2 separate regions of the Homo sapiens genome follow, and region 2 is linked to region 1. Evidence: fine-mapped expression QTL. Tissue or cell type: whole blood. Region 1 holds a variant in brackets; the other region holds the start of a gene. All regions are shown on one strand. Distances are from middle to middle.

Region 1 (2,757 bases):
CCTGGGCAACAGAGGGAGACTCCGTCTCAACAACAACAACAACAAAAAAAGGTATTGTCTTCTAAGAAAAGGAACGCTTTTACACTGTTGGTGGGAATGTAAATTAGCTCCACTATTGTGGAAAACAGTGTGAGGATTCCTCAAAGACCTAAACACAGAACTACCATTCAGTCCAGCAATCCCACTGCTAGGTGTAAACCCAAAGGAATATAAATCATTCTATTATAAAGACACGTGCATGCATATATTCATTGCAGCATATTCTCAATAGCAAAGACGTGGAACCAACCTAAATGGCCATCAATGGTAGAATGGATAAAGAAAATATGGTACATATACACCACGGAATACTATGCACCATAAAAAAGAACGAGATCATGTCATTTGCAGGAACATGGATGGAGCTAGAGGCCATTATCCCTAGAAAACTAACGCAGGATCAGAAAAACAAATACTGCATGTTCTCACTTATAAGTGGGAGCTAAATGATAAGAACACATGGACACATAGAGGAGAACAACACACACTGGGGCCTATCAGACGGTGGAGGGTTGGGGGAGGAAGAGGATCAGGAAAAATAGCTAATGGATACTAGGCTTAGCACCTGGGTGAAATAACCTGTAAAACAAACCCGCATGACACAGGTTTACCCATATAACAAACCTGCACATGTACCCCTGAACTTAAAGTTAGTTTTTGTTTTTTTTGTTTTGTTTTGTTTTGTTTTTTGAGACGGGGTCTTGCTCTGTCACCCAGGCTGGAGTGCAGTGGCGTGATCTTGGCTCACTGCAACCTCCGCATCCCAGGTTCCAGCGATTCTCCTGCCTCAGCCTCCTGGGTAGCTGGAATTACAGGCACACACCACCACGCCCAGCTAATTTTTGTATTCTTAGTAGAGACAAGGGTTTCACCATGTTGGCCAGGCTGGTCTTGAACTCCTGACCTCAGGTGATCCACCCACCTCCGCCTCCCAAAGTGCTGGGATTACAGGCATGAGCCACCGCGCCCGGCCCCAGGTTAAATTTTTTAAAATTTATATTTATGGAATCATGGAGAACTTCTCATCTAGAGAAGAACGTTTGTGACTCTATGAGGCAGAGATTTATCAAATTGGCAGGTTACGTCATGAAAACCTCCTGGGAGAGCCAGGGCCAGCCACACCCGGCCACAGACTAATTTTTCCACCAGGGAAAGTTTGTCCAGCTTATTGTGAAAATTCGTGTGGTATTGATGGCTGTGGTGGGCTGTCTGGCTGCTGCCATCACATGGCTGCTGCAGGGAGGGCCCAGGGAGGAGGCTGACAGCTCCCCGGCCACGCAGCCCACAGCCCTCTGGAGCCCACGCCCTGCTGGAGCAGCGCGGTCGGGCAGAGAGGGGCCCGGATGTGGAGCTGGGGCCGTGCTTTGGGGGCGGGGGCAGGAAGAGGGAGCAGCGCCCTCTTTGGGGACTAGCCAGCCGCGCAGCCACTGCACCCACCCCGCAGAGGGTTCAGGGTTCCTAGGCATCAGGA[G/A]GAGGCTCTGTGCAGGGCTTGCCAGCCGTGTTCTTGGGGTCCACCCCGCATCAGAGCGACCACCAAGCCTGCCACTCCCCGTGGCCAGGCTGGGGCCAGGATCAGCTCCCCACAGGCTGCCCCTGAGTGCCGGGGCAACAGGGGCAGTTCGTGGTGATATTGCCCCTGCCCTGGGCGCCAGCCCAGGCCCGGCAAGGATCAGGAATCCCCGCCCCAGCTTGCAAGGGGGAGCACCTGAAGCTGCATCCTGGGCCTCTGCAGCCGCCCAAGTTGTGGCCGCAGATTCAAGCCTCCCTGTGCTCTTGGGGGGCCAGGGAGGCCCCCCTGCCCTTGCAGGCTCCAAAGCACCTGCTCCCACTGCCTGGTTTCTCCCTGCTCTCAGCGCCTGCTCTGATCTTGGAGCAAAGTCAGGGTCCAACCTGGGGCCATGAACGGCAGCAGGAGGCAGACTGATTCCTGGCAGAAGGGAGCAAGTCCTCGCTAAGACCCCACCTTCAGGCCAGGGAGGGCCTGAAGGCTGAGGGCCACCAGACCTGTGGACCAGAGTGGGGACTTGTGATGCCTTTTCCAGGCCCATGCATGGCTGTTAATGGACCAGTCGGCACACACTGCATCCCCTCTGAGGTCCATAAAAGCCCCAGGCTCAGCCAGAGCAGGGCAGAGAAAAAGAGAGACGTCCAGATGACCAGCTGCAGAGAGAAGCCACTCTCTGTGCTAATAGCTGGAGATGACCTGACGACCAGCTGCAGAAAGGAGCTACACTCTCTGCTGAAAGCTGCAGTGAGGATGGGATGACCTGCTGGGCAGAGAGAAGCCACCCTCTCCAAGGCCTCCTCTCTGCTGAGACCTGCAGCCATCAGGAGGACCAGAGAGGAACTACCCTCTCTGGGGTCTCCTCTCTGCTGAGAGCTGAGCACTCAATGGAATGAACTGTCTACAGAGAGGAGCTGCCCACTTTGGTCTTCTCTGAGCTGTTCTAACACTCAATAAAACTCCTCTTCATCCTGTTCACCCTCCACTTCCCTGTGTAACTCATTCTTCCTGGACACAAGACAAGAACTCTGGCAAAGGTGCCAGGGGACACAGATATTTCCGACCAGAAATGTGACACCCTAAAGATTCTGTAACAGTATTACGTAAGCCTTTTTTTTTTTTTTTCTTTTTGAGAGGGAGTCTTGCTCTGTCGCCTGGGCTGGAGTGCAGTGGCACAATCTTGGCTCACTGCAACCTCCACCTCCCAGATTCAA
Region 2 (2,628 bases), 21 kb after region 1:
AACAAACACGAACACACACACGAACGCAAACACAAACACACACAAACACCCACACGAACACACACAGACACACACGAACACAAATATCCAAACACACCCACATGAACACAAACACCCACACGAACGAACAAACACAAACACCCACACGAACACACACCCACACGAACACAAACACACCCACGAACACACACACATACGCACCCCCACACGAACACACACACACGAACACAAACACCCACACAAACACGAACACACACACACACACACACACACACACACACGAAGCTGGTGGCTCAACCTGCCCCAAGGACAGATCTCCAAGAATTCAGGAGGGAAAAGCGATCCCTCTTCTTTCCAGCCCCCTTGGGGGTATTCCCCTGGGGGTCTTGAAAGGGAGAGGGGTACCTCAGATGTTGGGGATAAGGCTCTTTGGGAGTTAGCAAAGGAACTGGGGGTCTCCTTGGCGGTCCCAGATAAAGAGGAAGTGCCCCCCTCGGATCGGGGATGGAAAAAAGGTTCCCCCCAGAGATGCAGAGCTTGTGGGGGTGCGGGGTAAAAAGAGGTGCCCTCAATGTCCTAAGTCCTACATAGAGAAAGGAAGCCGTCGAGGGTTGGAGAACCGCGGAGGGTCCCCCGTCCAGGGTGCAGATGGGGTGCCTTGGGAATGCGGAATGAAGAGGGGTGCCCCCACCCACTGCCACATGGAGGGAAGCCAGCCTTTCTCCGACCCGGGGTGCAGAAGACGTATCCCTGAGGGGTTGAGGACTGTGGGGGTCTCCTCCTCCTGGCCTGGGGTGCTGATGGGGTCTCGGGATGCGGAATGAAAGGGGTGCCCTCCCGTGCAAGACGGAGAAGGAGAGCCCTTGGAGGTCCAAAAAGAACTTGTGGGGGTCTCCTCTCCCCCTCCCGGGATACAGATAGGGTCTCGTAGCGGGCGCAGGATGAAAGGGGTGCCCCCCGGACTAGAAGAAGGAGACCCTTGGGGGGTCCAAAAAGAACTGTTGGGCGGTCTCCTCCCCGCCCCCGGCCTGGGGTACAGATGAGGTGTCGTAGGGGTGCGGGATGAAAGGTGTGCCCCCCCGGCCTCGGTGCTAGATGGAGAATGGGAGCCCCGGTGGGTCTCCTCTCCCCGGCCGGGAGTGTAGAACAGGTGTCCCTGGGGGTGCGGGAGGGAGAAGGGAGTCCCAGAGGGGCGGTAGGGGTCTCCCGCGAGACCAGCTACCGAGGGTCGGGGCACGTCTCACCTGCCGCAGGTCCAAGAGGCCGGCGGGATCGTCGGGCGAAAGCTCGGGACCCTCGCGGAGTCTCGGGCTGGCCGCGGAGCCGGGCGAGGCGCGAGCCCCGGACACGGCCCAGGGGCAGGCGAGGAAGACGGCGCAGGCGGCAGCGAGCAGCAGCAGCAGCAGCAGCCCCGCGACCAGGGCCCAAGGCAGTACGCGGCAGGCGCGAGCGCGGGGCGCGGGAGGCCACGGGGCTTCGGGGTCCAGTGAAGCGTCAGAGGCGTATTCCATGACGAGAGACTGCGGGAAGACACAGCGCGCCGCTTTTTATAGCTGCTTGGCTACAAAAGGAGGCCACGCCCCTCCGCCCGCGGCCACGCCCCTCCGCCCGCGGCCACGCCCCTTCCCAGCCCAGAGCCTTTCCCCTCGTCCCCGTGACTCTGCGGAATTTTCTCCACTCGGATCTCTCTCCGCTTTTCGCTCTCCTTTCCGTTTCCGGCCTTCCAAGCTCGGCTCCAGGTTCCTTTCTCCCTGCTGTCTCTCCATCGCCCTGGTTCTCCCTCTCTGCCGCTCTTTCCCGGTATCTCTGTGGGTCTCTTGCTGACTCAGTCTCCTTTGCTCTCTGTGTCTCCCCGTTAACGTCTTTCTCTGTCTCTGTTGATTGCCTCTGCAGTGGGTGGAAAGAGATCTTTCTCTCTCTCTGCCAATTTATGTCTATGCGTGCCTCTGTGCCTGTATTATCTCTGTCTCTGTCTCTCTCTATCTCTGTCTCTAATTCTCTCTCCCTGTCTCTGGCTCTGTTATCTCTGTCTCTGTATCTCTCTGTCTAACTCTGTCTCTGGCTGTTATCTCTGTCTCTCATTGTATCTCTCTCTGACTCTCTCTCCCTGTCTCTGGCTCTGTTATCACTGGCTCTGTCTCTCTATCTGTCTTCTCTCTCTCTGCCTCTGACTCTCTCTCCCCATGTCTGGCTCTGTTATCTCTGTCTATATATCTCTCTCTGTCTCTGACTCTCTCTCCCTATCTCTGGCTCCGTTATCTCTGTCTCTGTATCTGTCTCTGGCTCTGTTATCTCTGTCTCTCTATCTCTGTCTCTGACTGTCTCTGGCTCTGTTATCTTTCTCCCTCTCTCTGCTTCTGTTATCTCTGTCGCTGTCTCTGGCTGTGACTCTCTCTCTCTGTCTCTGTGTCTGGCTCTCTCTGTCTCTGTCTCTGACTCTGTCTCTGGCTCTGTTATCTCTGTCTCTATGTCTCTGTCTCTGTGTCTCTCTCCCTGTCTCTGGCTCTTTTATCTATGTCTGTCTGTCTCTTTCTCTCTGTCTCTGACTCTCCCTATCTCTGGCTCTGTTATCTCTGTGTCTGTCTCTCTGTCTCTGACACTCTCTCCCTGTCTCTGGCTCTGCTATCT

The links. PIP is the estimated chance that this variant, and not a neighbour inherited with it, causes the effect.
Region 2: TNFSF9 starts here. The variant in region 1 is fine-mapped to the expression of TNFSF9 in whole blood (TOPMed, PIP above 0.99).

The regions. Positions count from the first base shown.
Region 1 is chr19:6,550,741-6,553,497 of GRCh38, reverse strand. No RefSeq gene overlaps it. Among named protein-coding and RNA genes, the nearest start is that of TNFSF9, 21 kb to the right of the region's middle. RefSeq lists an enhancer at 1,532-1,601. The variant G/A (reference allele first, on the strand shown) is at 1,511.
Region 2 is chr19:6,529,920-6,532,547 of GRCh38, reverse strand. It overlaps TNFSF9 (TNF superfamily member 9), which reads right to left and starts at 1,522. Exons shown (of 3, transcript NM_003811.4): 1 at 1,245-1,522. The coding sequence starts at 1,511. RefSeq lists enhancers at 1-143, 745-844 and silencers at 1,255-1,324, 1,465-1,694.